Linked DNA regions of Homo sapiens. The protein of the gene in region 1 purifies or fractionates together with the protein of each later gene. This does not show direct contact. Each region holds a gene or a part of one and is shown on either strand. Other genes may lie near its edges.

The links.
Region 2: the proteins of WNK2 (region 1) and SGK1 purify together in Homo sapiens (affinity purification with western blotting, with the first as the bait; one study listed by BioGRID). This does not show direct contact.

Annotation. Positions count from the first base shown.
Region 1 is NC_000009.12:93,316,580-93,320,393, forward strand, and holds part of WNK2 (serine/threonine-protein kinase WNK2), read left to right. Parts: intron 1-940; coding exon 941-1,052; intron 1,053-1,293; coding exon of another isoform or gene 1,294-1,495; exon of another isoform or gene 1,496-2,629; intron 2,630-3,787; coding exon 3,788-3,813; 3' UTR 3,814-3,814. UniProt on the Homo sapiens protein: Serine/threonine-protein kinase component of the WNK2-SPAK/OSR1 kinase cascade, which plays an important role in the regulation of electrolyte homeostasis, cell signaling, survival, and proliferation.
Region 2 is NC_000006.12:134,262,555-134,266,368, reverse strand, and holds part of SGK1 (serine/threonine-protein kinase Sgk1), read left to right. Parts: intron 1-3,814. UniProt on the Homo sapiens protein: Serine/threonine-protein kinase which is involved in the regulation of a wide variety of ion channels, membrane transporters, cellular enzymes, transcription factors, neuronal excitability, cell growth, proliferation, survival, migration and apoptosis.

The DNA.
Region 1 (3,814 bases):
GTTGACTTTCGTACCCCATATCCTGCAATTGTGCTAAATTTGCTATTAGTTCTAGAAATTGGTTTGTCCATTCTTGTGGGTTTTCTGCATACACAGTCTTGTCATCTGCATGAGGCCAGTTCTCCTTCTCTCTGTCCAGTCTGTGCGGTTGACTCCTTTTCCTCCCCGCCTGGAGATCCCCGTGGTGTCGACTGGAAGCATGGAGGCACCTTGGGGAGGTATTGGGCATTTTGTCGTGGGCAGGGGCTCAGCTGTCGGTTCCATAGAGGACCTTCCAGATAAGGAGGCCCCTCCAGCCCCTGACTGCCGAGCTTGATTTCCAGGAAGGGTTGTGGAAGTCACCGAGTGCCCTCCATGCACCTGTGAAGAGTGCCCAGTGGGGCCCTCCCTGGAGTGGAGAGGAGTGACTCCCCGTGGCCAGCAGCCTTGCCTTCCTGGGGCACACCCCGCATACAGCTTCTCCCCGGGCTGGGACAGTGGAAGGGCTGCCTTGCCATCACCTCCCTGCACACTTGCTTTGCCCAGGTCCTGGGGCTCTGCTCCTGCCAGCTCCTGGGTGGTTCATGCTCCTGTGAGGGCACTGACCAGCCAAGCAGGAGGGCTTTGTGGTGGCTGAGTAGAGGCATGTGGGGTCACTCATGCGCCCTCAGGGTCCAGGCCCCACTAGTCCTCCTCCAAGTCCCATTTTGGCTGGTGGACACCCAGGTGTGTGGCCTAGAGGCTATCAGGCTGCAGCTTGGGGAAGCAAACAAGGGAGGGTGATGGTTCCTGGCCCCACACCATCATTCTGGTGTCAGCCCTGAGAGGGTGCCTGTCACAGCAGGTTCCAGGACTGCTGCCTCCTGAGGATGGAGAAACTGTGGCACCCTGGGGGCCACTAAGGGAGGCCAGCTGATTGCAGCCACGTGTACCTTCCTCTTCTCGTCTCTGTGTTTTGTAGATGACCGCACCTCGAGCAGGAGTGGGGATGCCACGTCTGCCCCCAGCGCCCGGCCCTCTGTCCACCACGGTCATTCCCGGAGCCGCCCCGACCCTGTCCGTGCCCACACCAGGTACTGCCCTCTCCAACCTCCCAACCCCACCCTGTGCGCTGCCTCTGGGTCAGTACAGAGGCCTGCTCCCAGCTCCAGTGTCCTGGGGGCCCTGGGCAGGCCAGGTGGGCCAGCTGGGGGCACAGGGCAGCTGGAACACCCCCCAGGTGCCCGTGCTGCCAGTCTTCTTGCAGCCACCTGTGGTCAGCATGCCTGGCCCCCGGCTGCGGATCACGTAGCCTTCTGCCCTGTCCCTTGCCAGATGGCGCCCTCGGAACCGCCCGGAGAAACCAGGTGTGGTTTGGCCTCCGAGTCCCCCCCACCGCCTGCTGTGGGCACAGCACTCAGCCGCGAGGGGGACAGCGGGTGGGCAGCAAGACTGCTTCCTTTGCGGCTTCAGACCCTGTTCGCTCCTAGGTTCCTGTGGTCCACGCGCCGTCTCCACACCCACTTCCTATACTTGAGTTGATGGTTAGAACCTTGTCGTCACCCTGCAGAAGTACAGTGCCTTGAATGCCAGCTTTTCCGTTCCCTGATGAAAAGATATGTTAAAAAAAATTATCGGAAAAGGTTTCATTTGCAATTGGCTTGTGCATTGATAATCTTTATTTACTGTTTTAAGTTGCAGAGATGTGAATGGTTTACAAATCTGAAGCTGAAGTTCAATCTTTGGTTTTCTGTTGTAAATGCCTTTTACAAACATTGAATTAGCTACCTTAAGTATTGAAGAGCTTCCATTGCTAGGTGAGCCCTGCTTTGTCCTCAGTAGAGTGCCGGTTCCCTGGGCTCATCCAGGGGCTGAGAGACGGCGGGACGCTGGGGCAGGGCACACTGGCGGAGCTGCTTGCTCAGTAGGGAATGTCAGTTGTTGCGCTGGGCCATGAGAAATCCGCCAGAAAACGTTAGGTGAGCAGACATGCCCCCCATGCCAGTGGGCTGCTGTGAGTGAGGATAAGGTGTGTGTTGGGCATAGAAACCCTGGCTGCCCGCCCACCCTGTGGAGACAAGTGCAGCTCCTCCAGCTGGAGAGGCTGCCCTCTCTCCTGCCCACTTCCCTCCCTTCTCCATGATTTCCATGGAGACCTGTGGCTCTGCTCACCCCTGGCATGCAGACCGCTCTCCCGTCCAGCCCTAAGCCTGCTCTGCGGAGGGCGGGGTCATTCTTCTCCTGGAGATTTCAGTGGGACTCGTCCCCAGTGGGCACAACACAGCCCTTGGTGGGAGGGGAAGGCCCCAGCCTCCTCCACCTCCCACTGGAAAGCAGACTGCTTGGGACTGCCCAGCTGTGAATTGTATAGTTTCTGTACTTATTAGAACTGGGTAAATTATTTTGGTTCAAATCTATTATTCCATCAATTCAGTTAGAATTGAATTTTCTAGGTGATTATGCAGAATCTTCTGCCAGGGCACGATGCTGTCGTAAGAGATTTCTGTTCTCTGTACTGGGCCCCCTTGCCCTGTTCCTTGAGTGAAGTGGGGGCTGCCCTCACCTGTCCCCCTTGCCTGTGAATCCCTTCCTTGTACATGGTGGTCAGTGGCACGGAATCCCCAATAGATTGTATATCTGAAGGAGAAAAATAAACACTTTTGCTCGAAAACAGTGTGAAACAACATCTTTTTCTTACCCTCTATCCATATAAAATCCAAAGCAACCAGCCTCCTAGGGAGCACAGGAGTTGGGAGCCAGTTCTGGGCTCAGCTGCATCCACACCTCTGGAGGAGGGTGCTGAGGGGCTGCGGGTGCTGGGCTGGGCTGTCCCCGGCAGGGGTCTGAGAGCAGGGCATCTGGCAGGGCTGCCTGGCCCCCAACACTGCCCCCGCCAGCTGTGGCCTGGGCCCCGAGCACGGTCAGCTCTGCTGGTCGGGTTAGCTGGCTGGGCTGCCCACCACTCTGCACCTGATTACACTTAGCAGTGCCACGGGCTGTGACCATGATGGAGGGAGCCAGCCTCCTGGTCAGCGAGACACACCTGCAGCCCCTGTCTCCAGGAGGCTTGGTTTGCATTACTTGCTGCAGCCCCTGGGGCCACCCTCTTTGCTCCAGATGGGCCGAGCTCAGGGGAAGTGGGAGCTCCTCAGATGAGCTTGGACTTGTTGAGAGGAGGACTTGGGGCTGGGGTTGCCCATGGATCATGCAAGGGGCAGTGGCTTTTCTGGTAGGCACAGGGGCCTTAGGGAAGGTGGCCATCCAGGGTGGGGCCTCATCCTGTGGGACTCAGCGCATGGTGGCAGCCAGCCCCCCAGCATCCCACTAAAGACAGCCTCGAGCTGACTGTGGTCCCTCCTGCGTGTGCATTGCAGGCCTCACTGTGAGCAAGCTGAGGGTCCCAGTGTCTCCTGCCCGGTCCACTGTGGGGGCTGCCTTGGCTGTGGGGCCACCTCCTCAGAGAGCTGCAGTGCCAGCCTTCGAGCTTCTGCATGGAGGGAGGAGGAACACTCATCCCAGAGCCTCCTGTTTTGGGTGTTGGAGGGCAGCTCACTCCCCAGATGCTCCAGACGGTACAGGAGCAGAGCGTCTGTTTGGGTTTCTGGCAGCCGTTCAGTGTGCTGACTGGTCACACAAAGAAGGGTGGTCCAGGTGACAGAGGCCGCCAGGGCTGTGCTGAGGACAAGACCATCTACACAGGGCGTGGGTCATGGCAGAGCTGGCGCAGCCTTCCCGTCGGCAGCTCCTGGGAGGGTGTCAGGGCCTGGCCCTTGGCGAGTGGCCAGCACTGCGGTGGGCCCACAGTCAGCTGCGCGGTTTTGTTTTCCAGATCCTGAGAGTGAGAAGCCTGACTGAC
Region 2 (3,814 bases), on another chromosome or scaffold:
CCAAAGTGCTGGGATTACAGGTGTGAGCCACCACAACCGGCCTCACAAAGATATTTTAAATGGCTATTGAAAAGAGTACATATAGGCCAGGTGCAGTTGCTCACGCCTGTATTACCAGCCCTTTGGGAGGCTGAGGTGGGTGGATCACCCGAGATCAGGAGTTCAAGACCGGCCTGGCCAACATAGCAAAACCCCGTCTCTACTAAAAATACAAAAATTAGCTGGGCGTGGGGGCACGGTGCCTGTAATTCCAGCCACTCAGGAGGCTGAGGGAGGAGAATCACTTGAACCAGGGAGGAGGAGGCTGCAGTGAGCTGAGATCGCGCCACTGCACTCCAGCCTGGGTGACAATCAGAGACTCCATCTTAATAAATATAAATAAATGAATAAAGAAATAAATAAATAAAGCAATTAAAAGACACTTGTGGCTGGATGTGGTAGCTCACGCCTGTAATCCCAGCATTTTGGGAGGCTGAGCTGGGAGGGGAACACTTGAGCCCAGGAGTTCTAACCAGCTTGGCTTGACCAACATGGTGAGACTCTATTTTTTAAAGAAATGTATATATATATATACATTTATGATTCTGATAAAATATTATTCTTTTAAAAGTTAAAGTACGAAGAGTTGTAAAAACAGATAAAACACCCATGATACTAACAATAAACACAGCAGTTTCTATTTTGCCTCTTAACTCTCCTACTTTATGTCTATAGTGTTTCTGTGTATATATATATGTATATATATATATGTATATATATAAAATATATATGTATATGTATATATGTATATGTATAAATATATATGTATATATATAAAATATATATGTGTATATAAAATATATATGTATATATAAAATATATATGTGTATATATATATTTTTTTTGTTTGTTTGTTTGTTTGTTTTTTGAGACAGAGTTTTCACTCTTGTTGCCCAGGCTGGAGTGCAATGGCATGATCTTGGTTCACCACAACCTCCACCTCCAGGGGTCAAGCGATTCTCCTGCCTCAGCCTCCTGAGTAGCTGGGATTACAGGTGCCCAACACTACACCCAGCTAATTTTTGTGTTTTTTGTAGAGATGGGGTTTTGTCATGTTGACCAGGCTGGTCTTGAACTCCTGGGCTCAGGTGATCTGCCTGCCTCGACCTCCCAAAGTGCTGGGATTACAGGCGTGAGCCACTGCACCCGGCCTATAGTTAGTACATATGTTTTTACATTTGTGATTATAGCAATTAAACAGTTTTGTATTTGGCTTTTCTCATATAATTATGTTCTAAATATTTTTCATATTTTCACAGTCTTCATAATACTTAATTTTAGTGATAGCAAAATATTCTATCAAGTAATATAATAAATTGCTTAAACATTATTGCTATTGCAATTTTAGTTTATCCTCAGTGTTTTTTAAAAAGTTAATTGCAGGCTGGGCATGGTGGCTCACACTTGTAATCCCAACACTTTGGGAAGCCAAAGTGGGAGGATCGCCTAAGGCCAGGAGTTTAAGACCAGTCTGGGCAATATAGCAAGACCCTGTCTCTACAAAACAATTTAAAAATAATTAGCCAGTCATGGTGGTGCACGCCTGTAGTCCCAGCTACTTGGGAGGGCTGAGGTGGGAGGATCGCTTGAGCCTAGGAGGTTAAGGCTGCAGTGAGCTGTCATCGTGCCAATGCACTCCAATCTGGGGAACAAAACAAGACCCTTTAACAACAACAACAACAAAAATAATAATAATAATAATTGTAGCATCACTAACTAAAATTCAGTACTGTGATTTTACTTCTTTGTCCTTTTGCTATAGGCTAATTTCACTAATTGGTTGAATATAAAAGAATCCTCAGGAGTTTTGAAGAGCATGAAAGTGAAATAGTAAATCAAAATAAATTTCAAGCACCAGTGACCATAAGTCTTAACAACACTTCAGTGCTTCTTAGAAAATTGCATGCTCATGGCCAGGCGCAGTGGCTCAAGCCTGTAATACCAGCACTATGGGAGGCCAAGGTGGGCGGATCATGAGGTCAGGAGATCGAGACCATCCTGGCTAACACGATGAAACCCGGTCTCTACTAAAAATACAAAAAATTAGCCAGGCATGGTGGCAGGTGCCTGTAGTCCCAGCTACTCGGGAGGCTGAGGCAGGAGAATGGCGTGAACCCAGGAGGCAGAGCTTGCAGTGAGCTGAGATCGCGCCACTGTACTCCAGCCAGGGGCAACAGAGCGAGACTCTGTCTCAAAAAAAAAAAAAAAGAAAGAAAAGAAAATTGCATGTTTATAAACTCTGGATTCAAGGTGCCTGGATCCCGCCTTTACTCCATAACAACACTGTGCCCTGGGGAAATTTGCTTCACATCTCTATGCGTTTGTTTTTCCATCTGTATAATGGGATTGAAAATAGTACCTTTCTTATAAAACTTTTCTGAGGACTAATTAATTAATTTTTTATTCTTCATTTACTTATTTATTTTCTTTTGTAGAGATGGGGTTTTGCTATGTTGGCTAGGCTGGTCCCAAAATCCTGGCCTCAAGTGACCTGCCTGCCTTAGCCTCCCAAAGTTTAAAGTGCTGGGATTACAGGTGTGAGCCACCTCACCCTGCCTGTTCTGAGGATTAAAAACTATACACATCAAACACTTTAAAAAGTGCCTTGATTTTTGAAATGCTGTATAAATACCATGCCTGTTAATATTAGAATAGCTTTATACTTCTTTCTGTATCTTATAGGGATTTTACAAGCAAGCAAGACAAGTGGTGAGTTTTAGAACTTTAAAAACAAACTTGAGCTAATTTCTTAGCCAGAAGCAATTTCTTTTATAATCAAAGTTGTGCAGTAGTATATATGGGCCGGATTCAGTGGCTCATGCCTGTAATCCCAACACTTTGGGAGGCGGGAGGATCACTTGAGCCCAGGAGTTTGATACCAGCCTGCGCAACTTAGTGAGACCTCATCTCTACAAAAAAAAAAAAAAATTAGTAGTGTGATGGTGCGAGCCTGTGGTCTCAGCTACTCCAGAGGCTGAGGTGAGAGGATTGCTTGAGCCCAGCAGTTCAAGACTGCAGTGAGCCATGATTAGGCCACTGCATTCCATCCTGGGTGACAGAGGAAGATCCTGTCTCAATAACAATAATAATAGTGAATATGTATTTGCTTAGCAATGGATTAGATTGTAAACTATGAGATTAGTATTTTCCCTTGTAAGAATAACTAGTAATTCACCTTAGAAATGTGTGAACTAAATTTCTGTCATCATAATCATAATAATAAGGGTCAAAGTAAAATAGTCACTATCTATTGGGCACCAAACATGTGCCAGGCAAAGTACTTGAACATTGTAAAACATGGTAGCATTTTCACAGCTTGGGAGGAAATATTATTACCTGAATCTTACAAATGAGGAGACAGGCTGGGCACAGTGACTTATACCTGTGATCCCAACACTTTAAGAGGCAAAAGGATCTTTTTCTTTAAAAAAAAAAAAAAGTTATTTTTTTCGTAGAGACAAAGTTTCGCTATTTTGCCCAGGCTGGTCTCAAACTCCTGGGCTAAAGCAGTCCTCCTGCCTTGGCCTCCCAAAGTGCTATTTAGATATAAACCATCTCGCCTGGCCAGGGTAATTGTTTTTGTTTGTTTTTGGGTTTTGAGGGTTTGTTGTTGTTGTGTTGTTGTTGTGGTTGGAGACAGTCTTGCTCTGTCACCCAGGCTGGAGTGCAGCGGGGCTATCTCAGCTCACTGCAACCTCCGCTTCCCAGGTTCAAGCGATTCTCCCAAGCAGCTGAGATTATAGGCGTGTACCACCAGGCCTGGCTAATTTTGGTA